Homo sapiens: one gene and its partners. The protein of the gene in region 1 purifies or fractionates together with the protein of each later gene. This does not show direct contact. Each region holds a gene or a part of one and is shown in the gene's direction. Other genes may lie near its edges.

Evidence for each region.
Region 2: the proteins of LANCL1 (region 1) and FIGN purify together in Homo sapiens (affinity purification with mass spectrometry; 3 studies listed by BioGRID and IntAct, with this or other methods). This does not show direct contact.
Region 3: the proteins of LANCL1 (region 1) and MYO7A purify together in Homo sapiens (affinity purification with mass spectrometry; 3 studies listed by BioGRID and IntAct, with this or other methods). This does not show direct contact.
Region 4: the proteins of LANCL1 (region 1) and ALDH16A1 purify together in Homo sapiens (affinity purification with mass spectrometry; 4 studies listed by BioGRID and IntAct, with this or other methods). This does not show direct contact.

What each region holds. Positions count from the first base shown.
Region 1 is NC_000002.12:210,438,269-210,446,116, reverse strand, and holds part of LANCL1 (glutathione S-transferase LANCL1), read left to right. Parts: intron 1-3,417; exon of another isoform or gene 3,418-3,575; intron 3,576-4,673; coding exon 4,674-4,809; intron 4,810-5,372; coding exon 5,373-5,519; intron 5,520-7,848. UniProt on the Homo sapiens protein: Functions as a glutathione transferase. Catalyzes conjugation of the glutathione (GSH) to artificial substrates 1-chloro-2,4-dinitrobenzene (CDNB) and p-nitrophenyl acetate.
Region 2 is NC_000002.12:163,732,717-163,740,411, reverse strand, and holds the start of FIGN (fidgetin), read left to right. Parts: upstream 1-4,403; 5' UTR 4,404-4,574; intron 4,575-5,339; 5' UTR 5,340-5,484; coding exon 5,485-5,509; intron 5,510-6,470; exon of another isoform or gene 6,471-7,695.
Region 3 is NC_000011.10:77,180,013-77,187,860, forward strand, and holds part of MYO7A (unconventional myosin-VIIa), read left to right. Parts: intron 1-361; coding exon 362-469; intron 470-1,367; coding exon 1,368-1,577; intron 1,578-1,938; coding exon 1,939-2,142; intron 2,143-2,411; coding exon 2,412-2,588; intron 2,589-3,055; coding exon 3,056-3,145; intron 3,146-4,575; coding exon 4,576-4,703; intron 4,704-7,848. UniProt on the Homo sapiens protein: Myosins are actin-based motor molecules with ATPase activity. Unconventional myosins serve in intracellular movements. Their highly divergent tails bind to membranous compartments, which are then moved relative to actin filaments.
Region 4 is NC_000019.10:49,448,265-49,456,444, forward strand, and holds the start of ALDH16A1 (aldehyde dehydrogenase family 16 member A1), read left to right. Parts: upstream 1-4,960; 5' UTR 4,961-5,067; coding exon 5,068-5,157; intron 5,158-6,649; exon of another isoform or gene 6,650-6,670; coding exon of another isoform or gene 6,671-6,673; intron 6,674-8,180. Other genes in the region: PIH1D1 (PIH1 domain-containing protein 1), read right to left, coding at 1,211-1,390, 2,518-2,584, 3,221-3,310.

The sequences.
Region 1 (7,848 bases):
CCCTCAGCAGAGCTCGAGCACTGTGCTGGGAGATCCACTGCTCTCTTCAGAGCCGGCACGCAGGAATGTTTAAGTCTGCTGAAGTTGTGCCCACAGCCACCCCTTCCCCCAGGTGCTCTGTCCTAGGGAGATAGGGGTTTTATCTGTAATTCCCTGACTGGGGCTGCTGCCTTTTTTTCAGAAATGCCCTGCCCAGACACTGGACATCTGTTTTTAAAGTTACAAACCTTTTGATAATACAAGGCCAAAAACTCTCCCCAGTAACACCCTGAGGAAGTACTGTGAGGAGAGGAACAGAACTATCCTGTTTGTGTGTCTTCATTCTTCTTTCAGTGACATTTCAGTGACTTGGCTATCTCTTCTAAAGATGGGTTGCATTAATATCAACATATCAAAACAAATAAATGAAGCTGCAACAAAGTGCTTGTTAGTTTGAGAGTTTCTGAAAACACATAAAATAACCATTATGATTTATCAGTGATATCATTTCTTTATTTTTATATCTTAATATAAATATTTTATTTTTAGTCTTATATCTTGAGAATATAGCATGTACAACTTGCAGTTAAGTCCTAGTAATCATCGAACCCAACTAATGAATTTTAGTGATTTGAATTCAAATCCAGAAAAAAAGGGATATGCTTCCTTTATTACCCTAAACTGTATTGTTTTAATAAGATGCTCTGAGCAATACTGTATTTTAGATAAATATTTGAAAGGTATTTGCTACCTACTTTGAATGTTGCAAATGCAAATGTGTTTGGCTGCAAAGTAAATGGAATGCTAATTATATATTGCCACCTAGTGGTAATGTATGTCCTAACATCAGCAAAAAAGGAATGGAGTTAATGCCGTGGTTCAAATATTTTATTTCAGTTGGAATATCATTGGAATCAATGCAGTAATTCGGTGTAATACTTCCATAGAACAGTATGTGTTTAAAAAAAATTACAGTAATTTTTTTTCATAGTTCTTTCAATCTTTGCAAAAGTAAGTCAAAAGTACTTTATATTGAACTTCTATATAATTTGACACATTTATATTAAAAATAGGTTCATATCAAAACTTGAGATATTCATTGTTTACTGTAACAGTTGAATTTGTATCTAATAAACACATTTTGTTTTCTTATGGCCCCAACGTTACTGAGCTCCCAGTTCTGGAATGAGAAAAAAAATTCTTAATAAATGTTTTTATTAAAAATTTAAAATTCGTATTCAAAAATTAAAAATTACTTTTAAAAATTAAGGGAGTGTGTGTGTGTAGATATATATGGTATCGAAGTAGAAAACAAAATGGCCCATAATTCTATCCATAAGCCCTATTGTTTTAAAAAAGGTCAAAGTATACAAGAAAATGTATTAGAAGAAAAAGGAAAGAAACCTCTAGCCAAGTTTCTTGGTTATCTATTTCTCAGTATATCTCTTCCTAAGATAACCACTGTTTCACTATGAATTGTTGCCTATATTTGTAGAAGAAAAAAATGGATGAGCCAGCATTTGCATATTTAACTAATTTGAGTTGCCTCAATTTGATGAGGAAATAATATGAAAAAGTTTAAACTGTTTCACTAACTGCAACTAGCCATGCTTTTTCAACCCCCACTTTCCTGCAGTTCCCTTAAAGACTCCTTCATAAGTTTCTCTCAGTCTTTCTTTCATAACTGTCAGCCACTTTCACTCACTAAAATCATCTCATTCTGCTTATTTAAAACCTATCCTCTTCATTTTAAATGTTTTCTCCCCCCTCACCACAAGCGTGTGGAAGTAGTGGAGAGGGAGATGGGAGAGGAAGATTGTTCTCTTTCATATCTGCCCTCCTTGCTGAGCTAGGATGTTTTCACTCACTGTATCTATAGCCTGGTGGTAACAATTGTTAGGTTTTTGTTTGCTTGGGATTTTGTTTGATTTTGTTTGTTTTTGTTGTACATATTGGTGGTCTCCAGAGACTGGCAGTAAAGGCTGTAAACCCCCTCAGCTCTACCCCTACCTTCTGAGTATGTTCAAATGAAAGCACAAGTGGGTGCCCAATTCTGCCAACTGTGCAAACACTTTAGGAAGAAGATACTCTTTAGACACACATACATACATACATACAGTCTCCTACCCTGTTTTTGTAGCTCAGAGAAAGTCACATTGCCCTCAAGCCCTTCTTAGACTTTATTCATCAAAGAGTGGGAAAGCCCGTACCATCTTCCAAACCTCCAGCCCATCTTTACCACTCATTCCACCAATGAAAAACCATTTTCTATCATTCCTTAATAATAACAAATTCTCTGGTGTAGATTTTGATAAAGTTCCTATATGAAAAAGAGGCACTTCAGTGCTGAGTACCTCTGAGTGTTGACTCCTGCTTAGAGTACTTCAAATACATCACTTTGGGGCGGGGGTTGGAGGGACCTGATGTTTGTTACTTCAAATGCTAATTAACCATCCCTAGTGTATAGACTGAAGTTAGATGACAGACATGCACAGGCACGGCACACTGCTTCTGCTTAACTACTTTAAAATTAAATTTCCATATAGATAAACACGATAATTTCTAAACTGGAAGGGACTATTTATTTCACAGATGAAAAATTTTAAGAACAAAGATTTAGTGTCGAAAGCTACCTGATAACATTTGTTAGGGCTAATGTCGTCTCATTACTACTTTCTTCCAGAGTTTCATTGGCTCTTTGTGCTAATATCATTTTGTTAAGTTTCACCAAAAATTAAAATGTTTTAACTTAAATAGGATCATATCAAATTTATAGGCTAATTTAGGGATGATTGAGATGCACTTCAAAATTTCATGTGACAAAACATCTAAAATAGCAAGGACATTTTTCTTCCCTATCATATTTGCTGCCCACTCCCCTCCCCCCAAAAAGGGAACATTCTCAGAGGTCAAACTACCAAAGATGGTTACTTTCCTAAACTGACTTCCCTCTGTGATCTTCTCCCCTACTTGCTGGTTCCTGAGGCTTCCCCTTTTGGTCTCTGATGAAAAGGGTGGGGCTTTGATGACCCTGCTGTGCCATGTCTATGACTATGCATGCATCTGGGGCCAGGTGATGTGGAGGACAGAGAAGTAAAGCAATGGGGGCTTATAACCCCCTCCTAAGACTGCAGTTCCTCCAATCTGTGGGGAAATTTCCCTCCCTCAGAGTTTAGGCTCCCAGGGCTCCCCTTGTCTTCGCACCTGCTCCCAGCATGAGATTGCTTTGTAGCTTGGGGCACAAGAGAACTGAGAAAAGGAAAATAAAGAAAAATGGAGGGTTAACCCATTCTCTCTGATATTAGGAGTTCTCTTTGTTCAGACAGCACTAGAGGGCTTCTTCTGGGTCTCTATAAGCCTACTTGTGCCTACTTTTGGGTTTTGTGCTGTACTGAGTTCAGACCGGGGAATACCAGAGAGAAAAAATGGTAAACTCACCATTGGTTTGGTGCTACTTCAGATTCCTGTCCTCTTCCCCTTTTTGCATGTTACTGTTTGCTTTTCAGAGACCTCAAATAGCTGCTGTATCCTGTCCAGGTTTTAGAGCCACATTTTGAGGGAGACACAAGGTGCAGAGCATGCTTGCTCCATCTTACCTGAAATCAGAACTGAAAGTAACTTTTTCTGAGAAGCTCAACTGAGTCTATCCGTAGGGATTGAATGAACTATAATTCAGTGGGGTTCTATGCAAGTATTACAAAGAATGTGACTACTCTGTGTGCTGTTATGGAACCATTGTCAAGATGTATTGTTAAATAGCAAGCTGTAGAATATTTATACATATGTATATTTATGCTTATGTGTACATAAAATCTAGGAATACACACAAAAAAATGGTAACCATGGTGATTTCTGAGGAGAACTAGAAGGCTGGGAGACTGAGGAGATGGAGACCTGACTGACACCTCTTGTACTATTAATATTTGCATGTATTGGCCAGTTGCAGTGGCTCACACCTATAATCCCAGCACTTTGGGAGGCTGAGGCAGGCTGATCACCTGAGGTCGGGAATTGGAGACCAGCGTGACCAACATGGAGAAACCCCGTCTCTACTAAAAATACAAAATTAGCCAGGTGTGGTGGTGTGTACCTATAATCCCATCCCCTCGCGAGGCTGAGGTAGGAGAATCACTTAAACCTGGGAGGCGGAGGTTGCGGTGAGCCGAGATCACGCCATTGCACTCCAGCCTGGGCAAGAAGAGCGAAACTGTCTCAAAAAAAAAAAAAAATGTACATGTATTATTGACTGTGATAGATGAAACCTACTTCAAGTAGGCCTGGTGACACATTAAGAAATAAACCAAGGAAGGAGATGATGGGCCATTTGAGTGTTGGCTTAGTCCTTTCTCTGGGCTAAATGCCCTAAAAGCCAGCAGTTCTTGGCTTCTTTGACCCCAACTGCTAAAATACTCACCTTAGGGCCTGCCTCCATGAGGAACTAGGGAGATTTCAGATAGCCTCAGCCATACATTTGTATTCTTTCATTTTATGAATGTATTTGTCAGTTCCATTGTTAAGTGAAGAAATTTAATGGAGGGCTAATCTGTGAACCGTGACTGTTCTATAAATAGATATTATATATGTATAAATACATATTTTGTGTGCATGTATATTTTTTTCAATGTACCATTTTTAAGTATACACCAATACCTGGTTCCTTTCAAATTATTTGGGGCATGTATTTTTATTTTTAGGCTAATTCACCTAAATAAGATTGATCCTCATGCTCCAAATGAAATGCTCTATGGGCGAATAGGCTACATCTATGCTCTTCTTTTTGTCAATAAGAACTTTGGAGTGGAAAAGATTCCTCAAAGCCATATTCAGCAGGTACCACGTTTTTGTGTTTTTAGGAGCCTTTTTAGGATCCCATTTACTTACTATCTGCCTAAACTATTGTTTATGTCTCTGTAGTTAGCACATTCCATATAAAGGAAGGTGTATCTGGACCTCTAAAGGTTGGGCACAGTCCAAGAACCAATAGCTTTCTACGGAGTGCTGTTGGAAACATTTCTGTCTCAAGAGTCCGAAGGCCAGTCTGCTCCATTTCAGAATTTAGAGGCCCTCTCCAAAGAGGATTAGAGCCAAATTTCACCTCCCAGATGGAGGATCTCCTTTGGTGGTGCCTAGAGGAGTTTATGCTTTTCTTTGACAGGCGAACTCTTGTAAACTGTAATGCAAAGAGCTCAAGATCCTCTACGCCCTCCCCCTTCTAGGCTAAATACAGTCCCACACACTTCTCTGATGGAGAATTAAACTGTGCCTTTCCCTGGCTATAAGCTGGTGTCTAATTTGTCATGTTCCCCAGTACCTCTTAGCAAAAAAGTCTTTACCTCCTCCAGGAAGATTTTTGTTCAGTTAACTTGTTATTTTGGTTGGTTTTCTCCCTGTAGATTTGTGAAACAATTTTAACCTCTGGAGAAAACCTAGCTAGGAAGAGAAACTTCACGGCAAAGTCTCCACTGATGTATGAATGGTACCAGGAATATTATGTAGGGGCTGCTCATGGCCTGGCTGGAATTTATTACTACCTGATGCAGGTAAGGAGTGATTATGGTGAAATTTTAAAATGTCCTTCCTGACCCATGTACTATCATGGGTGAGAAAACAGATATTCTAGTTCTAGTTTGTCATTCTGTCAACCACTGCATTACAGTACTCTCCTTGTAATTACTTGTCCTAGACAAACAAAAGTAATGTTTACGAAGGTGCCTTTAAAAGTGTATAAACATTAAAGGCCCTGCGTTTTAAAATGATGTTTGATTTGCAGGTGATCGTGCTTGCCCACTTAGTGCCACTTGTGCAGACTAAAGTGTTTTGACTTATAATTCTGTATGAAGTGCCTCTGCTCTGCTCTTTCAGCCAGTGCTTTGAATTAAAACTATTATTCCACATTAAAAGGTACAACTGATTCCAACAAATTCCAGGAATAAGAACAAAATCAATAGAAAACAAATGAGCACTTGTTGCCTAATGCTCACTTAGAGAGCAAAGCTGAGGAGACTTCTACTTACCTGAAAAACAGCTGAATATGCTCTGCCCTACAGTTCTTGGGATCTAATACTATTGGGGCACATCAACCAAAGTCAAATAGACTAAAGACAGATAGAATTTACTGCAGCAGACATAACTTGGGAGAGATCAGAAGAGGACTTCTCAGGAGAGCATCATTTTGGGAGACTTACGAAGCTCTCCTTAAGGAGAAACTGGCACTTCTGAATAAGAATTCATGGCAAAGAAAATTGATTTTTAATGGCAGCAGAGGTACCCCTGTCACCTTCCCAAGGCACACTGTGGCATAAAGAAAAGTGTTTCATTAACGTGTTCAGCAGGAGTGCTTGGATATACATACTACCAGCTCTTTGAGTAGCTGGCTCTTATAATACAAGATCAGTGTTGGACCTGCCCTCTACCTATAAATAAACAAGGACAACAGAACTGAAAAACTCAAGATTATTATTATTTTTGAATGCAGAGTCACACATTGAGTGTTAGTGGCAATCAGAGACTAGCGTATTTATTCTACACTTTTCAATTAGAGGTTATATAATTAGGATGTTGACATTTAGACTTAAATTTCTTTATTTTTCTGGTGCATGTCTTCCTCTCTATTCCCAGTAGTAAATGTAGATTCCTAAAAGCTTTCAGGAAAGAAGAGTCTTCTGAAGTTTCAAGGTTAGTTAGAATCAAACATACTAGAGGCCCTCTCCAAAGAGGATTAGACAGCCTTATCGAAATTTCATTGAAACAAATAATCAGGAGACATAGTTGGTTAGTGACTAGACAGCCTCATCAAACTTTCATTGAAACAAATAATCAGGAGACATACTCTGCCTCCTTGTGTTAGCTGTAGTAAGAAATCTGAAAACCCAAGTATTGATTTTTCCATTTGCAGGTTATCATCTCTTTGAAATGATTTAATTTTTAATCCTGAAAGTCTATTCTAGTAGGTACGCCTTCATCAACATAAAATAAAACATCATTATTTTTAGGCCATGTTGGGTAATTCCTGCAAGTTTGAGGAGAGTCCACTCATTCTACTGTAACACTCTGAGCTTAAATGCTATTCTTTGTATGAAATGAAATCTGCCTTCTAAACAACTCAGTCCACTTTCAGAATCTTGTGGAAGTCATATTGTCAGCATTGCTTTGACCCCACCACGACCGCCTCCTGCCTGTGCTTCACACCACTGCCCACCCCTCACCACCACATGCCCCACACCTTGCCTAGTGAAACAGCACTTTGAATCTGTTAAAGACATTAGCAGTCATTGAATTAAGAACAGGACCAAAAGGAGAAACTAAAATGTGTATCAAAAATGGTGGCTCATATGCTGTATGTCAGTATGTCCTATGGATCTGTACGTTGTTATGTCAAAATAATGTGGCATTTAGATCAGTCCTAAATCCTCTGCAAAAAGACTTGATCTAGAGGCATGCTGTAGTTTGGAATCTAGATTCCAGGTCTCTTAACTTGTTAGTATCCTTTTTCTATTGAAAATACCACCTATCTCTTCTCTAAATGTAATAACGAAAGTCATGCTTGGTTTGTCCAGTGCATCTCTTTGTGACTTTTAAAGCTTGTTTTATATATTGAAACCATGAGAAACTTCTCTTACACTCACATTCATAGGCATTGACTTAGGAAAATTATTTATATGTATGTAGATAGCAATTAATATTGAAAAACAATATATACAAAATGCCGAGCACAGTGGCTCATGCCTGTTATCCCAGCACTTTGGGAGGCCAAGGTGGGCGGATCATCTGAGGTCAGGAATTCAAAACCAGCCTGGCCAACATGGTGAAACCCCGTCTTTACTAAAAACACAAAAATTAGCCAGGCGTGGTGACAGGCATCTGTAATCC
Region 2 (7,695 bases), about 47 Mb from region 1:
TTGAGAACCATGCAAAATCAGGCAAAAGTTCCAGCAAATATACACACACTATAAATATATGTGAATTTAAAAATGTAATACTCAGGTTAATAGAAGAAAGCAAAACATCTTAAGTGAACCCATCACAGGATTTTCCAGTTTGTCTCTACTGTAGAGCTAGATCACTGAGGAGATGTATGAACCACACTAATATCCTTTGACAGTACCTGCATTTGAGTGTCATTCTGAGCAAATTGAGTAATTTTACTCAATGAGGTCATGATCTTCACTAGCTTTTGTGGTTTTTTTTCTTTCTTTTTTTCTTTTTTTTTTTTTAGGGGAAAGGGTGGTACATAAGGACTTCTTAGTAACTTTATTGAAGTGAAAATCATGACCCTTATACTGCAATTTTATGGAAGCATTAAAAAATTATCTTGTCACTAATTTGCATTATTGTAAGAACTACCTCAGATTTTTGTGAGTAATATGAAAGAAAAAGTCTAGTTTCATAAACAGCTACTAAGTTCTAGAATGTGTTTTGAAACCCAGGAGTTTGGAAGAATATATTATTAGTTTAATGTTTTATTAAAATATTTAACATTTAAGTTCAAAACTAAAAAACAATATTTGAAAAATTAAATTGAATTGCGTTTAGCATTTTATGAAAAACTATACATGATAGCCCTCCAAACTTCTTTCCTTAAAGCATCTTGTGACCTACATCTCCCTCATCTTTTCTACCCGCTGTCTACCTTCTGCCTCCACTGATTTTTTTTCCTTTCCTTTCCTCTCCCATCACTTAGGTAAAGCACATCTCTGTGTCCAGCCTAGCTCATATTTTCCTTAGTCCAGTGCAGACAAGTCTATGGTCATTTGCAAAATCACATTCAGTATCACTTTGCTTATTCCCTTAACCTTCACTTTTGTTGTTGTTGCTTACATTATTTTGAGAAGAAAAAGCAGAAAAAAGTAGAATTCCCCTCTGAATTATCTTGAAAGGAAGGCATACACACACACACTCCTGAAGAAGAGTTATGTTGATTTTTCTTCTGATTTTCTTAAAAAGCACAAGTTTGAGTATACTGTGTATTAGAATTTCACATATTAGTCAAAATGTTATGCATTATAATGTCTGTGCATTTAAAAAGTAAAATAGAAAGAGAAATGATATTGCTAATAGAGTGGGAAAAATTAGTCAAATTTATTATTTTCTGAAATAACTGTTTCCCTGACTAGCCAATCAACTTCCTTTAAACACTCAATATTTAATTCTCATGTTATATCAAGAAGTTTCAAAAGATATTATAGAGATGGATGTCAGCTACAGCCAGAAACATTTCTTTTGATTAAAAGTTTTGAAGATAAATGCATACAGAATATGATGACTGTTAAAGTGCTTTTTAATCATACCACATAATTAAAGATAGTTTTATTAAAACAACAAAAACTGAACATCGCAAACAATGCCATGAATCTCTGTGGAAAAGAAAGTCAAGTTTTATTTTCCTTTGCTTAAAATAATTGGAGAAAAGCAACTTTTACCTATACTTAAAAAAAAAGGGAGAAATAGTGCAATGACGAACTCTCCTGTGTATCTTATTATTATGGAAGTCCCATAATGTATATTCTATTATGTAAGTGTCTTTTATTCCCAGAGTATATGTAATTTTGAACAATTTAGAAACTCTGTACCTCTATCCAGTGCTCTTTTGAACAGTTTTCCAATTATTTGATTCCAAAGTTAATTATATTTATTTGCATGTTGAATGATTTTTTTATAATGTGTATTTCAAATGAATCTATAAGGGAATTGGAAAGGTACAGTTATTATCTATTAATAAACTCTTGCTGACCACACTTTTTCCTCCTCTTTTTAAAGAGCAGGGGTTGTTTTATTTTAGATATTACAGATGAATGGCTTTAAGTCTGTCATCAAAATACATTGTTTTTATATTCAGTGGGCACTGTATTATATATTTTATTCACTATTTGAATTTACACAAGGAACTGTAAATTCAACGCTAGGATTTAATGTTAAAGGTTGATGAGCTCTGAACTTTTTTAACAAACAAGAACAGAGCAGTTTTGCCCGAATTGCACAGAGCATCTGCTGTGTGTCCAGAGGACTTTTGGTCGTCATTCCCCAAATGGGCAATAACTGCGATTATGAGCGCTTCACAGTTTTTTTTTTTTTTTTTAATTCATCTGTACTCAATCCAACAGTGACCCACAGATATTTCCCTACACTTATTTCTTTGTGGTAAAATCCAATGAACAACTTTTCGTAATATCATTTTCAAAGCCATCTTGTAAAATATAACTAAAGAGGTTTCAGTGTTCTCTGTTACATCAGAATAAAGTTCTTCTGTTTTATTTCGAAGACTCCTTTTTTAAAAAATTCACAGAAAGGTCAAATCCATTCCAAATAGAAATCTCATTGCTTAGAAATATTTCTTAGGATCTCGAATCACTCTTTTTTTGTCTTTTAAATTCTGTCATCTGCCTAGATTTAACTGAAATAATTTTTATTTCTCAGTGTGTTAGCTAAAGGCATCCATTCAAAGGTAAGAACATCATAAAAGGTGAATGGAATTAATTTCAAAGTATATATTTGGCATTTTTAAAGAGCTGCATTTCAGCATCTGGAGAGCTGCAATTTAGGCTATCAAATCTACAACAGAGAAGCTGGGGGAAATGTGAACACCCTTATGAGGAGGGTCAGTCCTCAGCAAGTGCATTTTCGGTTCCAACCTTCAAAGGTAACATTTTCAGCTTGATGGGCTCCTGGTGGAATATATAATTTGCCTCTTTCATTCTTAGCTTCGTTGAAATATAGAAGACTGGATGTCTACCAGGCCAAAGTATAAACTCACCATTTATCTATTAAAGTCATATTTAATGAAAACGAAGAGAAATTATGACCCAATTCACTCTCTTTCTCATTACAATTCCTAAAGAACTTTGCCGGGCACATTATCTCGTAGACATCATGATCAAATGTTATTGTTTGCTTTATTATCTCAGTTGGATGGTTGGCTAGTCTAGAATGAAATAGGTTGAAGGCAATACTCTCAGCCTAGAAGTCTGAATGAGGTTCCCATTCAAATGATCCTGATTGTTTGCGGGTGGGGCGGGGTGATTAGTAAACCAACTGAGCTTACACTGCATAGTAAGCGTCTGGATGCCGCACATTTACATCTAACAAGAGACCCCAGAAAACGTGTGTGTGTTTCTTAAACCTTATGTTCCGAACAAAAGGCTATCTCAGCAACAGACAATCAGCACTGCATTGCTCCCTGGGATGCGAGCAACACACTCAACTGCACATTTCATTCTTCCTCGGCTCCCAGCACCACAAAGCCCCTACTCTCTTCCCACTCCTGGGTCCCCAGATTACTCCATAGAGGGGGGTTGGGAAGGCAGAAGCCTAACGTCTATGCCTGCGCACCAGCCGCCGACACCAGGGCCCCCCGGGCGCTGCTTTCTCCAGCCCGAGCCGCCTGGGGGAGGTAGGGAGGGGAGCCAGGGAGCGCGAGAGGGGACCGCACACCTAGACACTTAGGATTTTATTTATTCACAGGGAGGCGGGGGAGGGGAACTGGGCGAACGCGAATTTTCTCCCCGAAGTTGCCTCTTCTAAGCAGATCAAGTCGTTTTCTGGCTGGTGCTGGGGGCCCCGGGGAGGGTGCCGGTGAGGTCCAGGCTCTCGAGACCAGATCCCGTCCCGTGCGCAGAGGGGGTGGGGAAGGGCGGACGGGCCGCAGCTGTCGAGAGGGCCGGGAACCGGCAGGGAAGAGCCCGCGGGCCGGGGAGCAGCGCGGCTCTGTCCCGGGCCCTCCAACGCAGGCCGGGGAGCGCAGGGGCCGGCTGGTCACGCGTGGGAAAGAAAGCCCCCTTCCCCCTACGGCGCTGCTCCCCTTTCCCCAGGCTGGGCCGCCAGAGAGTGCGTGCAGGGAGAGCTGCGAGTCCCCGCGCGCGTAATCATGACCTCGGGGCCCCCTCCGGGCCGCGTGAGCGCATCGGCGAGGCTGGGCGGCCGCCGCGGCCCCGGCCGTGTAACATGACCCGAGCGGCCGGCCGGCCGGCGCGGCGCGGCCATTGAGCCCTCCCTGCCCATGAATCTCTGGCGCGTCTCTAGCTCGCTCGCCGGCTCGCCTCCCGCCTCCCTTTCTCCCCCTCCAGCTCCGCGGGCTCCGTGCGCCTCTCCCTCTCCCTCCTGGTCCTCCCGCTGCCCGTCTCTCTCCACTGCCCGCCTCTCGCCACTGCCTCCCGTCTTCTCTCCCTCACGGCAGCCTCCGTCTCTTTCTCCCTCTCTCCTTTGAAAACTGATCTTTGGCTCTTAGTGTGAAAGTGATTTGAATTTGGCTCTGCGGCGCTCTGCGCCTGCGCCCAGCCTCTGGCATGCTGGCTCCTTCCAAGCAGCTGTTTTGGGTTTGAAATTCCAACATGGCAGAGGCTGCAGTCCGTCTTCCCTTCAAAAACTTGGAATGATTTCAAATCATAGGCACCTTCACTTAACCCTAGCTTCCATTCATCAGCAAACACATCGGATCGATGCTACGCTAACCTATCGGGTTCTCTCTCCGCGCGTTCAGGTAAGAGGAGCTTCGTAGTTTTCTACCATCTGTTTAAATTTGTTTTTGTTTTATTTTTAAAGAATATAAATACATCCAAGACCTGTAATTAAAAGAGATCTTCAGTTGTGCCGTAAACATTAAATTCAATTTCCACTCGTTTCTATTCTGTACGCCAACCTGCTGTCTAATTTCTCTGTTCAAAGTAGCCCTGAAACATTATAATGCATATTTTTGCTGCTTAATCATTGTAACAATAGTATGGGATTAAGAGTTCGCGATTGCAAGAATCTCGCTTTTCGCTATATTGGGCTTACTTATTACTATCTTTTTACTTCAAAAATAAAAAAATAAGAAAGCGGAGCCATAGGGTGGGGCTAGACTTTCTTCGGGAACTAACTTCTAAGTAAATAAGAAGTGTAAATAAGAATCTTGCACACACACAAAAAGTTGAGGTTAAATTACAATCTCGTGGCTGGGGGAACGAGAAAATGTCAGAAGATCGGTTGCAGAAAAATGTAAGCACATCATCTAGGAGGGGGTACAGCGTGGTGGGCGTATTGTTGGCAAGGAACGGGAGAGAAAGATGTATAATTTAATGGTATATACAATCCACTGATCCTATTACCGTCCTCCCCGGAGCTCTTGTTAGTTTCAATGGGAGTGAGTGAAATTGACATGGACTTGCATTCCTGGTCATGTGCTTTTTTTCCTTTCTTTCTTCTCCTGTGATCTGAGATCCCCTTTTTGTTGATGTTGCTTTCCCCCTTAATTATATGCATGTAGGTTAAATGAATACCTGACGAAAGGGCCCACGTTTCAAGGCAGTGACATTTGATAGCTGAGAGGAAAAGTGGCTTTAATGAAAAGCAACCTTTGGAATTCCTGCTTGTGAGAAATCCAATTCAGCTTTTTGTGCTGCCAGCAAGAAATGATCAGTAGCACCAGTGTTTATGGTATGTCAGTTTTGGAATTTACTTCCTTTGCATCTAAATAGGAAAGACAAATGAAATAGCATGATAAAACCATTGAAGACTGCCTGGCAAGCAGTTGCTCATGATATAGAATTCCTTTTTTTAAAAAATATATGTTTAATGTCACCATGCTTTTTTTTCTTTTGCTATCACTTGTTTGTATATTGCAGTTTTGATTAATATATTACTTGAATCCACTTTTATCGGTTTTAGCTGTCATCCAGAAGTTGCACGTTACTAGTAATGCACTATATATATATAACTGCTGAAGTCAAATAGTATGTAAATTAGTTAAACTCAGTGTGGGTTTTTTTTTTTTTTTTTTTTGAAGGAGGGAGGCTGGGCAAAGGGGAGAGGGCAGGAGTGTTGGGAAAGATTACTAACTAATGAAAGTGTATCTATATATATGTACACACACAGGAACAGGACTGGATGAAAATTTTATTTTTCTCAATCTATTAATGCAGTTTGACTATCTGCTCTTGATGTTTGCACTTTGTGGAGTAATCAGTTCTTCTGAGTGTGGTTTTTTTTTGGGGGGGGCGGGTAAGTGAAGAGGTGTCTTTTACATGAAAATAAAAATTATATTTTGATTGTCCAAAGTCCTTGATGTCTTTTAAAGAGTAGGGATAGGTTTTTCTTCCCCCTTTCCATTCACTCGTCTGCCTGTCAGCGCTTTTTACTTTTAACTTGTGACAGAATTAAATAATCAGGCACTGAAATTGACTTCGTTTGAAATCGCTCTTTCCTTTCTTTACAAAAAAAAAAAGTCAGTTAAATGGAGTGAGAGGGGATTTTCAATAGCTCTTGTGGCAGTGCCCTGTGTACACTTTGTAATATTCAATTAAGACAGAGGGAACAACAACAACAAAAAGATGTTAAAGTATTTTGCATAACCAAAGGATATGTCCACTTTAGACTGTTTTTTTTTTTTTTTTTTTTGGTTGTTGCTATGTTTACCCCATGACCGTTAATTCCTCCTGAAAAGAGAGAAAGAAGGAAAGAGAGAATATGAAAAAAGAAATAACAGTGGGGCAAAGCTGCCAGGGGTCTGTAGTGTGGCCGTGGTCACTGCTCTCTCCTAACACAAATGTGAATACGAAGAGAGGAACTACAAGACCCGTTGCGCGACATACACGTCTGGTTGGACTCTGGTGACTATTGAGCTAAATACACACCACACTTACACGATAGGAAAGATTTGATTGAATTTTGCATTTGGAACTTGTTGACTTTGAAGCGATCAATAAGAAGACTGTTTATTTTAGATGCACATAATTTGCCCTGAGAAATGTTTTAAGGAGGAGAGAGCACAGCTTTTTTTCCCCCGGAGCTGTTGGAGCGAATGGGATTGCCAGATGGGCGATTTCCCTCTGTGATGTTAAAGCTGTAATATATATTCAGAGCAGATTGGGCTGCTGCCTGTGATGAGGAGGATATTACATTTATAAATTTTAAATCGGAGCTCGGACAATGTGCTGAGAGCAGAAATTGGATGGTTTGACTGTTCACCGTATTGATACTTAAATGTGATTTCTAGGTAGTACTAATAATAATCATTGCAATAATTCATGAAAAACATACTGGCATAGGCAATTATATAATTCATGACATTTAACAGCAGATTTGAGTGTGTAAATTGCCCCCCTCTTAAGTCTCTGCTTACTATTAAATAATAGTCACATAATTCATTTCCCTATGTTTAAATGTCCGATGTGCAAATGATGTTAACTTAGGAGCCTTGTTATCATATATTAGAATTCTAGGGGTGAAAGTTTACATACATATATATAAAGTAGACACTTGTGTATATGTATAAAGTGGCGTTACTGGCTCTTGTTTTCTAATTCTTTACTCTGATTATTTTTAGATTTTGTTTGTCTCAAATGTGCGGCCTAAAGGAACCAGAGCTACAAACCTAAAAGACTAGAAAGTGGGCAAGTGCTCACACTCTGGCAGCTCTGCTGTTGCAAATTAAAAGTGTGTTGTGGTCAGGAAATGAAAGCTACAATGTCTCTTTTGAACAAGTCGTTTATCAAGAGAAACATCTATCAGGGACTGCCTTGTCACATTGATCCTCTAAAAGTTAGGTCCGAGGTGGAAGCTGCTTTGATGTTTTTGATCCTAAATTTAATACAACAGAAAAAAAGCAAGGATATTTTGACCAG
Region 3 (7,848 bases), on another chromosome or scaffold:
ATCACCCTCAGGTGTTGGCCAGGAAGTGGGACCTATAGGGGGGACCTGCAGTTATGCCTGCTCTGAGGAGTGCACATACCTGGGACCAGACCCTCATTTCCATCCTCTCAGCCAAGGGCAGGGCTGGGACCTCAGTCACTCTTGGGAATCTCTGGGAGACCGACGCAGATCTGGCCGGGCTTTAGGATCAGTGGTGCCTCCAGCCCGCTGGGTGACCTAGAGAATTTCTTGATTACCTCACTTGTCCTATCAAAGTCATGCCCAGTTCCAGAACTCAGAGTTGGGTGGGTGGAGCTGGTGGGAATCCCTGCAACAACAGCTACACACATTTCCATGCCCTCTGGATGCCCCCTTCCCTCAGTATCTGTGGCGCCTCGAGGCTGAGAAAATGCGGCTGGCGGAGGAAGAGAAGCTTCGGAAGGAGATGAGCGCCAAGAAGGCCAAGGAGGAGGCCGAGCGCAAGCATCAGGTGAGCTGAGAGCCTCCAGGCACCTTAGGTGTCCACTTGCTGGCTTGTCCCCTCCCCGAGGCTGGCTTCTCATCTGTCACCCGGTGCTGCAGCCTTCCTTCCATCCTTCAGAATGGCCACACTAGACCCACTCAGCCAGCATTGCCTGAGCTCTCGCTGGGCACCTGGTCCTGTGCCATGCAAAAGGATGAAGGGCTGTGGTGGCTCCAGAGGAAGAGGCCCAGGCCCTCAGCAGCCCCTTTCTAGTTGTTGAGATAACACCCTGGTAAAAGCACAAGCCAGCTGACGGCACGAGGGTGCTACACTGCCCAATAGAGAGCCACCAGCCACAGTGGCAACTGAACACTTGCAGTGTGGCCTGTCCGAATGACACAGTGCTTTAAGTGTGAAATACTAGATTTTGAAGATTTGGTGGGGGAAAAATGAATATAAAATATCTCAGTATTATTTTTATAATATGGATTACATGCTAAGTTAATATTTGGGAAATATTGAGTTAAATATACTGCTAAGACTAATCCCACCTATTCCTTTTTGCTTTTTAAAACGTGGCTACTATATGGGTGGCTCACATTGTATTCCTATTGGGCAACACTGGTCTAGAGCCTCAAGCCAATGGCCGTGGGATGTCTGGGTTGGTGTGGTCCCCATGGAGCAGGCTCCTGGAGGAGGTGGCTCCCTGAGAGCCCTGAAGGACGGGCAGGATTGTTATTTGGCTTGTTGAGAGGCCTCTGAGTGGTCCAGAGGTGGGGAAGTCAGAGGCTCCATTCTTCCCAGCGGTCAGGAGGTGGGGACTGAGGCCCTGGCTGCTGCAGGGGCTCCCCAGGGAGAGCTTGTTCCCTGAGGCTGTGGCACCGGGGGCTGACCCCGTGTCTTCTGTGTCACCCCAATTGCCCAGGAGCGCCTGGCCCAGCTGGCTCGTGAGGACGCTGAGCGGGAGCTGAAGGAGAAGGAGGCCGCTCGGCGGAAGAAGGAGCTCCTGGAGCAGATGGAAAGGGCCCGCCATGAGCCTGTCAATCACTCAGACATGGTGGACAAGATGTTTGGCTTCCTGGGGACTTCAGGTGGCCTGCCAGGCCAGGAGGGCCAGGCACCTAGTGGCTTTGAGGTACCAGGCTAGGGACAGGGGCTCCAGAGGCCCACACACACCGCTTGTGTTGATCCTCCCTCCTTCTGTGCCCTTGGCCTTAAAGCCCACCCAGTCCCTCTGAACAGTGGGGAGCAGAGATGAACTGGGTCCGGGCTGCAGGTCCCAGGTCCTGTCCCTCTCCAACGCCCTTCTCAAGTTTTTTTTTTTGTTTTTTTTTTTTTTTTTTTTTTTGAGATGGGGTCGTACCCTGTTGCTCAGGCTGGAGTGCAGTAGCGTGATCACAGCTCACTGCAGCCTTGAACTTCTGGGCTCAGGCGATCCTCCCACCTGAGCTTCCTGAGTAGCTGGGACTCCAGGGCATACCTCTTGTCTCCTTCAGGACCTGGAGCGAGGGCGGAGGGAGATGGTGGAGGAGGACCTGGATGCAGCCCTGCCCCTGCCTGACGAGGATGAGGAGGACCTCTCTGAGTATAAATTTGCCAAGTTCGCGGCCACCTACTTCCAGGGGACAACCACGCACTCCTACACCCGGCGGCCACTCAAACAGCCACTGCTCTACCATGACGACGAGGGTGACCAGCTGGTAAGGCCTGCCTGTCACTAGGTCACTGCTGGGTGGGGCCAGGGCTGGGGCTATGGACTCTGCTGCTGGTGGTGGCCGTAGGTGATGAGGGTGGTGGGTCCCTGGGGGCCAGGGACCAGGTCTGACTATAGTCTTCACTGCGGTGCCCAGCCTGAGGGCTGACCATGCGGGAGGGGGTGTCTCCAGCCCACTCCCCAAACCGCCAGGTCATTTTGACAGCTTTAGCAATGTCCTCCGCTCTGGCCTCTGACATGCGCGCTCTGCCCCAGGCAGCCCTGGCGGTCTGGATCACCATCCTCCGCTTCATGGGGGACCTCCCTGAGCCCAAGTACCACACAGCCATGAGTGATGGCAGTGAGAAGATCCCTGTGATGACCAAGATTTATGAGACCCTGGGCAAGAAGACGTACAAGAGGGAGCTGCAGGCCCTGCAGGGCGAGGGCGAGGTGAGGCCAAGGTGCCCTCTGGATGATGTCCCTCCCAGGCCGACAAGGAGGGCCGCTGGCATCACCAGCCTTGGGCTCCTCTGCAGAAAAAGGATCCTATAATTCATCTCTGCCTCACCGACCCCTGCCTGCCACCCTCCTTTGTCTACTTGTGGGAACAAATGTGTGCAACTTTTATAAACTGTAAAGTGCTGACCATAACTGAGGGGCCTCATGGCAGAGCAGACAGGGGCTTTGCAGTTGGAGCCAGCTCCCGTACTATGTTTTTCTGAGTCTCAGTTTTCCTGACTGCCAGTTGGCTAGTGGGGGTGCAAGGGTAGGGGTGAGCAGGTGGACGGTGGCAGTGTGGGGGACACCCTGTAAGCTTCACGTGGAAGCGAGACGGTTCCCCGCAAAGTCTTGCTGTCGGGGGTCTCGACATTGCTTTCTGCTCAGCCACTTGACCCTGATCCCTGCTGGTCCTGCAGGCCCAGCTCCCCGAGGGCCAGAAGAAGAGCAGTGTGAGGCACAAGCTGGTGCATTTGACTCTGAAAAAGAAGTCCAAGCTCACAGAGGAGGTGAGGGCAGACGCTGGGGGTCTGGCAGCCCAGGGGTGGCTGCCTTAGGTGGCCTAGGCTGGAGCACAGCTGAGCTGGGGGCCCACGGAAGCAGGAGCAGGAGTGGACACTGTCTGTCCTCAGGGGTCTTGGCTGGCCAGGGACAGGACAACATGAGTGGGTTGGTGGGCGATCAGGCAGACAGGAGTGTCTGAAGAGGGTGGGATCTCAGGCCGGGGGTGGGAAGGGCTTCCTAGCAGAGGGCACTGAGCAGGGGAGGCCGGTAGCGGCACAGCTGAGAGGGAATACACTTCTAGCCGGGCACAGACCCGAGGCACTTGGTCCAAGGACCTTTGAGGCATGGGAGCTTTCTGTGGAACAAGAGTGCTCATGGAGCATGAACAGGATTAATTTATTTGAATTCATTCTTCAGTCACTTTGCCTTTTCTGGGCACTGTCCCAGCCCTTGTGCTCTGGGGTTGTCCAGGCTGGTGTGTGTGTGGCAGGGGAGGATACACTGGAGAGGCAGACACAAACCAAGGCATTCACAGCCTTGGGGGCCAGGCCCCCATCCCCACATTTGCACATGCCAGTCCCTCTGCCTGAAACTCCTCCTTTCTCTGCCTGGGGTCACCTCCTCCAGGAAGCCTCCCCAGCTCCTCCACTGCAGAGTCAGGGGCTCCCACTTCACCTCTGCCCTTGTCCTGTCCCCACCTGAGGCACAAATCCAGCCTTGCAGGTGTGTGGCCTCAGATTTGAATCCCACCTCTGCCGCTTAGTATTCAAGGGACCCAGGGAAGAAAATGCCCACTCCGTGGGGTCCTGGGAAGAAGGCAGAAATGGCAGCCGAGGGTGTTCAGTGGTGCTCCCTGTCTGCACCACCCACTCCTGCCGCTCGCCTCTCACTCACCCTACATCCTCTGGGCAGAGCTCGGGGCTTGTGCTGTGGGCTGTGTGGGATGAGAGAGGAGAAACATCTCATAAGAACTGGTGTGAGGCTGGTCACATCGGGGCTAAGGGTGTTGGTGACAGAGTGGTGGTGACTGGTGGTTGGAACCTGGAGTATACTCCAGGTGCCACAGTTATGTTGGCGGGGGCACCCCAGAGAGATAGGGGTCCCGCTTGGAGTCAGAGGATCATGTCCCTGTCCTGGCTGAGAGGACCTCCCTGGGGTGGGGTGTGGGGTGCAGGGTATCGAGGAGGTGGCCAGAGGAGCTCTGTCCCCAGAAGTGGGTGGCACCGGGCCAGTGTGCCCCTGCTGTGTGGGCCAGTTATTGGCCCAGCATCTGCTGTGCACGTGGCAGGGGTAATGACAGTGATGGGGAGCCCAGTTCTTCTGCTCACTCCTTAGATTCTGTTTTCTGGGGAGCAGGCAGCCTCGGGTGCTGGTGCCCTGGCTGGCAGGGGAACACCCCTAACTTTACCTGCCCTGTCCTCTCCCTCTGGCCCAGGTGACCAAGAGGCTGCATGACGGGGAGTCCACAGTGCAGGGCAACAGCATGCTGGAGGACCGGCCCACCTCCAACCTGGAGAAGCTGCACTTCATCATCGGCAATGGCATCCTGCGGCCAGCACTCCGGTCAGTGCCGGGAGGCGGGGACACCAGGGCCTGAAAGTCTTTTGGTGGCTGAGTGGTGCCTCTGTCAACCTAGCAAGAGATTAAGCCAAGCAGGCCTGGGTTTGGCTTCGCTGCTAGCTAGTTGGTGGAGTTAGGACCTTGGTGGAGTTATTTCATCTTTCTAAGCCTCTGATTCCTTGTCTGTAAAGGGGGAATCCTAAAACAGGCATCCCTTGGAGATATTGCAGGTTCAGTTGAAGGCCACAGAAATAAATATCACAATAAAGAGAGCTGCAGAAATATTTTGGTTTCCCAGTGCATATAAAAGTCATATTTATACTATACTATAGTCTATGAAGTATGAAATAGCATTATGTCTAAAAAATGTAGACATCTTGATTAGAAATTAATGCCAAAAATGCTAATGGTCATCTGAAAGTTGTATCTATTTGCTGGAGGGTCTTGCCTTGATGTTGATGGCTGCTGACTGATCAGAGTGGTGGTTGCTGAAGGTCGAGGTGGCTGCGACAATTTATTAAGATAAGACAACAGTGAGATTTGCTTTCACACAAAATTTCTCTGTAGCATGCAATGCTGTTTGACAGCATTTTACCCACAGTAGAACTTCTTTCAAAATTGGAGTCGATCCTCTCAAACCCTGCTGCTGCTTTATCAATTAAGTTGATGCAATATTCTAAATCCTTTGTTGTCATTTCAACAATGTTCACAGCATCTTCACCAATAGATTCCATCTCAAGAAACCACTTTCTTTGCTCCTCCATAAGAGGCAACTCCTCATCCACTGAAATTTGATCATGACATTGCAGCAACTCAGTTCCATCCTCAGGCCCCACTTCTCATTCTAGTTCTCTTGCTATTTATTTCCACCACATCTGCAGTTACTTCCTCTTGAAGTCTTGAGCCCCTCAGTCATTCATGAAGTTTGGAATCCACTTCTTCTAAACTCCTATTGATGTTAATAATTTGACCTCCTTCTACGAATCATGAATGTTCTGAATGGCACTGAGAATAGTGAATACTTTCCAGAAGCTTTTCCATTGATTTTGCCCAGATCCACCAGAGGAATCACTATCTATGGCAGCAATAGTCTTATAAAATGTATTTCTTAAATAAGACTTGAAAGCCAAAATTACTCCTTGATCCATAGGTTGCAGAATGGATGTTGCATTAGCAGGCATGAAAATAACATTCGTCTCCTTGTACATCATTTTTTTTTTTTTTTTTGGAGACAGAGTCTCACTCTGTTGCCCAGGCTGGAGTGCAGTGGCGCCATCTCAGCTCACTGCAACCTCTGCCTCCCGGGTTCAAGCAATTCTCCTGCCTCAGCCTCCCGAGTGGCTGGGACTACAGGTGCCCACCACCACATCCAGCTAATTTTTGTATTTTTAGTAGAGACGGGGTTTCACCATGTTGCCAGGCTGGTCTTGAACTCCTGACCCTGTGATCCACCCACCTCAGCCTCCCAAAATGCTGGGATTCCAGGTGTAAGCCCCTGCAGCCAGCCTCTTGTACATAATTTTTAAGAGCCCCAGAATTTTTGGAATGGTCACTGAGCATTGGCTTCAATTGAAAGTCAGCAGTGCATTAGCTCCTGACAGGAGAGTCAGCCTGTCTTTTGAAGCCTTGAAGCCAGCCATTGACTTCTCTCTAGCTATGAAAGTCCTAGATGACATCTTCTTCCAATAGAAGGCTGGTTCATCTACATGGAAAATCTGCTGTTGAGTGTAATCACCTTCATCAATGATTCTAGCTAGACCTTCTGGAAAACTTGTTGCAGCTTCTCCACCAGCACTTGTTGCTTCACCTTGCACTTTTATATTTTGGAGACAGCTTCTTGCTTTGAACCTCATGAGGCGATCTCTGTGAGCCTCCAACTTACCTTCTGCAACTTCCTTACCTCTCTCAGCCTTCATAGAATTGAAGAGACAGTCTTCCTCTAGATTAGGCTTTGGCTTAAGGGAATGTTGTGGCTGGTTTGATCTATTCAGACCCCTAAAATTTTCTCCATATCAGCAAATAAGGCTGTTTCACTTTCCTATCATTTGCATGTTCACTGGAGTAGCATTTTTGATGTCCTTCAGGAACTATTCCTTTGCATTCACAAGTTGGTTAACTGCTTTGCACAAGAGGCCCAGCTTTTGGTCTATCTCGGCTTTCAACATGCTTTCCTCTCTAATCATTTCTAGCTTTTGATTAAAAGTGAAAAATGTGCGACGCTTCCTTTCACTTGAACACTTAGAGGCCATTTTAGGGTTATTAATTGGCCTAATTTCAATATGAATGTGTCTCAGGGAATCAGGAGGCGTGAGGAGAGGGAGTGAGATGGGGGAATGGCTGGTTGGTAGAGCAGTCAGAACACATCTAACATTTATCAGTTAGGTTTGCCATATTCTATGGGCACGATTCATGGTGCACAAAACAATTACAATAGTAACGTTAAAGATTAGTGATCACAGATCACAGCAAATATAATAATAAAGTTTGAGATATTTCTAGTATTGCCAAAATGTGACAGAAACGGGAAGTGAGCACATGCTGTTGGAGAAATGGTGCTGGTAGACTTGCTCCATGCAGAGTCGTCATAAACCAATTTGTAAAAAATGCAATGTCTGCAAAGTGTAATAAAGTGAAGTACAGTAAAATGAGGTGTGCCTGCAGTAGCTACCTCATACATAGGCTTGTGGGAAGATAAAGCTATGAAAACTGTGTAGCACCAGACCTGGAGCATAGTAAGCGCCCCGTAGATGGTAGCTTTGATCATCATCATCCAACATGCATTTCCTGCTTTAACCCCGCTGCCGCCAGCTCACCTCCAGTCACCCACCCTAGGCCCACGGTTAAGGTTACTGTGCCTGGGAATCCTGCAAGTACCTCCTTCCCCACAGGGCCAGGAGAGGCCTTTACCCAGGTCCCTGGGGTTTTGGGGAGTTGAAGGGAAGACCCAGGAGTCACCAGGAGCCACCAAAAAATCAACTCAGCTGATGAGAGGAGGGCTAGGACTTTTCTGAGAACAGTCTCTGCATAGGACAGGTCTGTCGGGAGAGCTGATGCCATGAATGTGTGCATGCTGGTTGGGAGGACAGCAGGATGAGGCAGGGACCAAGCCCCACTTTCCTGATGGGGAAACTGAGGTCCAGAGTAGGGA
Region 4 (8,180 bases), on another chromosome or scaffold:
GTGATGTCACTAGAGTTGACCCTATCCCTTCCCTGCTCACAGCTCTTCTCTGGCTCCCCAGTGCTCCCAAGTGAAGGTCTGAGCCCCACAAGCCTGGCGTTGGAGACCCTATGTGGTCTGCCCCTCCCACCTCTGGAGAAGACCTCATTCTTCTAGCAACCTCGGCCCACTGAATTTCTTTCAGTCACTCTCCATTACTGGCTGATCCAATCCAATCATTCTCTCCCAGCTCTGGGCCGCTCTACCTAGAACCTTCTTCTGTCTGCCTGCTGAACTCCTCCTGTTCCTTCAAATCTTATCCCACACCCCCTCCTCCAGGAAGCCTTCCCTGACCCCTTCATGTGGGTGACGAGCCCTCTCAAGGCTGTGCTGGGTGCCCCCCTCCAAAGCAGCGTGAATCACACCCTATTGATACTGCATCCATCTCCTTGAGCCCCACCCATGACAGCGAGTTTCTGGAACGTGGAATGTGCATTTCATAGGTCCTTATTCCCCGGGGCACTGCCTAGAGCTTGGTCCCAGAAAGCTTCAAGAGACATATTGAAAAAAGGATATAGAGGCAGAAACAGGGACAGAGGTGAGGCAAGACAGAGATGGAGAAAGGGAGAAGGGCAGAGGAGAAAACAGGATGAAAGAGAGAGCCGCAGGCTGGGTGCAGTGGCTCACACCTGTAATCCCAGCACTTTCGGAGGCTGAGGCGGTGGATCACCTGAGGTCAGGAGTCTGAGACCAGCCAGGCCAACGTGGCGAAACCCCGTCTCTATTAAAAATACAAAAATTAGCTGGGTGTGGTGGAGCACACCTGTAATCCCAGCTGCTTGGGAGCCTGAGACAGGAGAATCGTCTGAACCTGGGCAACAAGAGCGAAACTCCATCACAAGAAAAAAAAAAAGAAAGAAAGAAAAAAGAAGGAGACAGCAGGCTCAGGACTAAAGCCAGGAGATCCGCTAATGCACGAAGAGCACTCTGCCCAGGCCTCCCGGCCCTGGAGTGGGGCATGGAAAAGTGCCAGCCTGGCCAGGTGGCAGAACCAGGACTGCCCGGGTGTGGGATGTCCAGGGCACTAGAGATCTACCATAGGGAAAAGAATCAGATCGAGGGGCCAGATCTCCAGGAGCTGAGGGAGGAGGGTCCTGGGCCCAGGATTCTTGGGTTCTAGGGAAGAAGGGGCCTAGCGGGCCAGACTCCTGGGTCCTCTGAGGGCACTGACTTGCATCCAGTTCTGCATGAGGCTCTCCCAGACTCATGGGGATGCGAAACCCAGCTTGGTCCTCCTCTAGCATCTGAAGCAGCTCCTCCTCGGTCACGTCGGCGGGAGGAGGGATAGAGGGGGAGTGGCAGATGTTGATGAAAACCTTCCCTTCCGAGGAGTTGGTCTTTATGCAGAAACCTGGTGGGAGTGGGTTAGTCATGACAATCCTTTTCTGCACAAGTCCCAGTCCCCATCCATTGTCTCCAGGCTCTGTCTCTTTTCCTTTTGCCCTGTCCCCCTTTTTTGTTCCACTCCCCACCCGAGATCCCTCACTTCTCTTTTTTTTTTTTTTTTTTGAGACAGACTCTCACTCTGTCACCCAGGCTGGAGTGCAGTGGCGTGATCTCGGCTCACTGCAACCTCCACCTCCCAGGTTCAAGCAATTCTCATGCCTCAGCCTCCCAAGTAGCTGGGATTATAGGCGCCCACCACCACGCCCGGCTAATTTTCGTATTTTTAGTAGAGATGGAGTTTCACCATGTTGGCCAGGCTGATCTCAAACTCCTGCCCTCAGGTGATCCTCCCGCCTTGGCCTCCCAAAGTGCTGGGCTCCCGGCCCCCTCTCTTCTTTGTTTTCTCCTTGTTTGTTTTTTGAGACAGGGTCTCACTGTGTCACCCAGGTTGGAGTGCAGTGGTACGATCTTGGCTCACCGCAGTCTCTTCCACCTGGCTCAAGTGAGCCTCCCACCTCAGCCTCGTGAGTAGCTATGACTACAGGCACGCACCCACCAAGTCCAGCTAATTTTGTTTATTTTTAGTAGAGATGAGGTCTCACTATGTTGCACAGGCTGGTCTTGAATGCCTGGCCTCAAGCAATCCTTCCACCTCGGCCTCCCAAAGTGATGGAATTACAGATGTGAGCCACTGTGCCCAGCCTCTCTTCCTATCTTTGTTGTTGTTGTTTGTTTCGTTTTGTTTTTGAGACAGAGTCTCGCTCTGTCACCCAGGCTGCAGTACAGTGGTGCGATCTCCACCCACTGCAACTTCTGCCTCTTGGGTTCCAGCAATTCTCCTGTCTCAGCCTCCCCAGTAGCTGGGACTACAGGCACGTGCCACCGCACCTGGCCTCTTCCTATCTCTGATTCTCTGGCCCCCTACCTACTCCTACTCTGTCCTCCAACTCCTTTCTGTCCTAGGATGATCTCTGTGGGTGTCTGCTCACCCCACCCCCACCCTAGGCCTTTATTTTCGTGTCTCTTTCCTTCCTCCTCTCTCTGTCCTCTCCCTGGGTCTCCTGTCCCTCTCTCTCCGGTGTCCTTTCTCACCAGGCTGAGGCTGGATTTGTGTCGATTCTGGTCTGGTTGTCTGGGCTTGCTGGAGCTCCTTCGAGGCCTGTATAAAGGAAAACTACCTCCAGGCTCGGAGTCTGTGCCATCAGACCCCTCATTTGTTCCTCAAATGGAGCAATTCTTATGCATGAGAGCTGTGGATAACGCGAGAAATTAGACGGTTTAGGTCCCCTTTCTCCTTTGAGAACTAGAAGAACAACCCCAACCCCATTCCCATTTCTTTTTTTTTTTTTTTTTTTTTGGAGACGGAGTCTCACTCTGTCGCCCAGGCTGGAGTGCAGTGCCGAGGTCTCGGCTCATTGCAAGCTTCGCCTCCCGGGTTCACGCCATTCTCCTGCCTCAGCCTCTCCAGTAGCTAGGACTACAGGTGCCCGCCACCACGCCCGGCTAATTTTTTGTATTTTTAGTAGAGACGGGGTTTCACCGTGTTAGCCAGGATGGTCTCGATCTCCTGACCTCGTGATCCGCCCGCCTCGGCCTCCCAAAGTGGTGGGATTACAGGTGTGAGCCACCGCGCCCGGCCCCCCACTCCCATTTCTTAGCAAACTTGAAGCCCATTAACCTCAATTCCCCGAGGCCTGGTTCCCGCCTTAGTGCATTCTGGGAACTGCAGTCCCATCTTTGAGCACCCCGCCAAAATCCCCGAATACTCAAGGATCCAGGGGTCCGGTCACTGCACCTGCAGCAGCAGCTCCTCAAATCGCGCCGAATCAGCACCGATCGCCTCCGCCTCGCTTAGCCCCATTCCCAGCAGCTTCGGGTTCGCCATGGCCCTGGGAAAGAGATCTAGGCGTCCTCGAGACCCTCAACGTGGGAAACTTTGCCCAGGATCCGAACCCCAGTGCCTGCTCTGGCCCTCAATCGACTCCGGATACCTACTATCCTGTTCAAAAACCTAAGACTGGCCTAAGACTACATTTCCATTCAAGACCGAACACCATCGTCAAATCCGTGGGGAATATGTGTCTCTAGACGCACTACCCTCCGTCCTACGTGCCGAACTGTAAACGAAGCCACACTTCCGGTCTATCGGTAAACACAGGACTGGAGTATGCCACACTTCCGAGTACCCCAGTGTTCATTCACAAGCTGGTATCGCGTTATCGACAAGCCACGCCCCTCGCATCAATCAAAAATAAACCCCAAGGCGGATCCCTGAGTGCCACACTTCCTGTATCTATGAAAGCCACACTTCCGGCTGGGCGCTGTGGCTCCTACCGGTAGTCCCAGCACTTTGGAAGGCCAGGGCAAGAGGATCGCTTGAGGCCAGGAGTTCGAAACCAGCTTGGGCAATACAATGAGATAACGTCCCACACCCCATCTCTTAAAAAAAAAAAAAAAGCGCCAGACTTCCACTCTTTCCACAACCAAAACTGGCCCCCTTACTTTGCAGTGAAGGTTGCATTTTCCAAACCTTAATCTCAATGTCCATCCTAAAAGGTACCCTTTTTATCTTTGAATTATCACTTCCTGCCAGCTCTAGATCCTAATACGTCCAGATCTAGACCCGCCAGGTCTAGATCTAGATCTAGACCTCTAGTCAATATAATTAGAAAAGCTGCACTTTGAGGCTGGGAGGCCGAGGTAGGAGGATCGCTTGAGCCCAGGAGTTCGAGACCAGCCTGAGCAACATAGCAAGATCCTGTCTCTACCAAAAAAAAAAAAAAAAAAAAAATTAGCCAGGCTTGATGGCACCTGCCTGTAGTCCCAGCTACTGTGCAGGCTGACGCAGGAGTAATGTTTAAACCTGAAAAGTCGAGGCGACAGTAAGCCGTGATCGGACCACTGCACTCCAGCCCTGGGCGACAGAGGGAGACCCTGTCTCAAGAAAATAAAAGGTAAAACAAAACCTGCACTTCCTGCTACTATAAAACAAGGCACTGGGAAGACGCATCAATAGGACGACCCTTTTTTTTTATTACTATTTTTTTTTTAGACACAGTCTCCCTTTGCCACCCAGGCTGGAGTGCAGTGGCGCGATCTCGGCTCACTGAAACGTACACCTTCTGGGTTCAAGTGATTCTCCCGCCTCAGCCTCTTGAGTAGCTGAGATTACAGGCGCGCACCACCACAGCTCGGCTAATGCTTGTATTTTTAGTAGAGACGGGGTTTCACCAAATTGGTCAGGCTGGTCTCGAACTCCCGACCTTAGGTGATCCGCCCGCCTCGGCCTCCCGAAGTGCTGGGATTACAGCCAAGAGCCATCGTGCCCGGCCACGCCGATCCTCATAAATCCGGAGCCCTCCTAACTATTCGCAAAGTACCCACATCGCCGTCTCCCCTTCCTCCCCGTTTTAAGCAGTGCGCATGCTCCTAAATACGCTTCCCCGTGGGGGACGTAGGCGGGGCCATCGGGTCCTAAGGAAAAAGTGTGGGCGTGGCTGCTCTCTGTATCTTGTAGCCCCACCCCATTCCCATTAGCCCCGCCCCTTTGGGCTGGAACCGGAGGTGTCGCTCTTCGGACCTCAAGGTTCCCCTTAACACAGAGCGCCCCGCAGTCTTCGCGGAAAGCGTTCGGGGTAGGCGATGGCTGCGACGCGTGCAGGGCCCCGCGCCCGCGAGATCTTCACCTCGCTGGAGTACGGACCGGTGCCGGAGAGCCACGCATGCGCACTGGTGAGAGTCTGCCCGGCCGGCGCTGCTCGCTGCGTTCCCCAGGCCTGGGCGCCCGGTTTTTCGCGGGGAGTCCCGTCATCCACTGCGGTAGCTCAGCCGCTCCGCCTCTCTTAGTCCCCGTGATTCCCGCCGCCCAATAGGATCGCGCCCTGTAGGACGCTCCCTTGAGCCTTGGCGGTGGCAGCCTTTTAGTCTGTTCCGGTCTTCCCCACTGGTTCTCTTGCCCCTTGATCCTGAACTCCTCGTAGTGTTTCCGCGGTTTTCCTGAACTCCTCTAGACGCTCTCGTGATTCCTCAGGGTCCCCTCAGAACCTGACGCCACCCACCAGACCCCTTAGGATTCCTGTGAGGCTCCAGTGACCCACAACCCCCATTGTCTTTCCACGACTCTTCAAAACATCCTATGGCTTCCATGGGCCTCCAGAGCACCCCAGACCTCCTGAGGGACTCCCTTCATCCCTTTGATTACCCAGAGACCTTCAGAACTTCCATGGAGCCCCCGTGATCCCATAGGACCCCTCAATACTCGTGGGGTTCATGTGACCTCATCGGAACTCTCAGGAGCCTAGAATACATCAGGACTTCCGGTTTGGGTTGGGTTTTTTTTTTGTTTTTTTTTTTGAGCCAGGGTCTCACTCTGTCGCCCAAACTGAAGTGCACTGGCGCTATCACACCACTGCAGCCTCAACCTCCTGGGCTCAAGCCATCCTCTCACCTCAGCCCCCCAAGTAACTGGGACCAGAGACGCGCGCCACCACTCTCAGCTAATATTTGTACTTTTTCTAGAGACAAGGTTTCAGCATGTTGGCCAGGCTGGTCTCGAACTCCTGGCCTCAAGTGATCCACCCACCTCGACTTCCCAAAGTGCTGGGATTACAGGCGTGAGCTACTGCACCCAGCCACATCAGGACTTCCTGTAATTACTTATGGCCCCTCACAATACCCTCACGGGGCTCCTATGATCTCTCTAGCTCTCAGAATGTCCCATAGGGTTCCCATGATTGTTCAGGAACCCCTGAAGTCCTCGTGAGGGTCCCATGATCCCCTGGGGGTCCTCAGAACCTCCCTAGGACTCCCATGACCCCTCAGAGGCCCCCAGAACCCTCGTGGGGTTCCTGCAAATGAGTAGGGCACCTCAAACTTTCTGTCGTTTCCCCAGGCACTCTCAGAATTCCTTCACGGGGCTCTCATGATCCCCCAGGGTCCCCCAGCACCCAGGCGAAAGGAGCTTAGGCTTCTTTGAGGGGGAGGGCAGGAGGCCAGAGCAATGATCCAAGTGGAAGGAACTGGATCAGAACCCTGGCACAGCCTAGAACTTGGGGAGGCCAAGACGGGCAGATCGCCTGAGCTCAGGAATTCGAGACCAGCCTGGGCAACATAGTGAAACCTCGTCTCTACTAAAATACAAAACATTGGGCCAGGCGTGGTGGCTCAGACTTGTAATCCCAGCACTTTGGGAGTCCTAGGTGGGCGGATCACCTGAGGTCAGGAGTTCGAGACCAGCCTGGCCAACATGGTGAAACCCCATCTCTACTAAAATACAAAAATTACCTGAGCGTGGTGGTGTTTGCCTGTAATCCTAGCTACTTGGGAGGCTGAGGTGGGAGAATTGCTTGAATCCAGGAGGCAGAGGTTGCAGTAAGCTGAGATTGCACCACTGCACTCCAGCCTGGGCAACGGAGCAAGACGCTGTCTCCAAAAAAAATACAAAAATGGCTGGGCGCAGTGGTTCACACCTGTAATCCCAGCGCTTTGGGAGGCCGAGGCGGGCGGATCATGAGGTCAGGAGATCGAGACCAGCCTGGCCAAGATGGTGAAACCCATCTCTACTAAAAATACAAAAAATTAGCTGGGCGTGGTGGCAGGCACCTGTAATCCCAGCTACTTGGGAGGCTGGGGCAGGAGAATCGCTTGAACCCAGGAGGTGGAGATTGCAGTGAGCCGAGACCACGCCACTGCACTCCAGCCTGGGCAACAAGAGCAAAACTCCATCTCAAAAAAAAAAAAAAAAAAAAAAGGAAACAGAAAACAAAAGATTAGCCGAGGATGGCAGCACACACCTGTAGTCCCAGCTACCCGGGAGGCTGAGGTGGGAGGATCACCTGAGCCTGGGAGGTGCAGTGATCATACCACTGAACTCCAGCCTGGGTGACAGAATAAGACCCTGTCCCCCCTGAAAAAAAAAGAAGTTGAGGCCAGGCAAGTGGCTCACACCTGTAATCCCAGCAGTTTGGGAGACCGAGGCAGGAGGATCACTCGCACCTAGGAGTTTGAGACCAGCCTGGGCAACATGGTGAGGCCCTATCTCTATTAATATAAAAATAAAACATAAAAAGTGAAGTTGAGACTTGGACTTGAGTCCTTGCATTTCAGACCCGTGGTCTTGCCTACACCAGCAAAGTTCTCAACCGTACAGTCTCTGGGCCAGACTCAACCAACAAACATGTTTTCTTTGGCGTGAACTTTATTTTTTTTTTATGTGAAATGCTGGACAATTGATTCCATGTAAACATCCGGGAGGTCCTCTTGAAAATAAAATTCCAAAATGTGTCAACATTTGGCTCAACTTCCCTGACAAAAGTCATCTGGGACCAATAGCTCCTGTCTTTTCCATGAATCGTTAAGCTCCTCTTCTCATCCAGGCCCTCTTCTCAGGCCTCCTGGAACCCTCTGGACATTCTTTTGGAATTTTGTTTTTCTTTTGGGGGGAAGCTTTCCAACTTGCACAGAATAATTAGCATTTATTTTGAACTCCTGTTTACCCATCACTGTGCCTCAACCATCATCAACATTTATCCCAGCGCTGTTTCCTTCTGTATTTTCTTTGGAGTAATTTAAACAAATCCTGGATGTCACAGTATTTTCCTATAAATATTTGAATCCTTTCTTCTAACAGATAAGGGCTCATTTTGTTACAAAACTACCATGGTCTGTTACCACACTTAACATTAAGTCATTCTTTTTGTTTTTTGTTTGTTTGTTTGAGACAGGATCTTACTCTGTCGCCCAGGCTAGCATTCAGT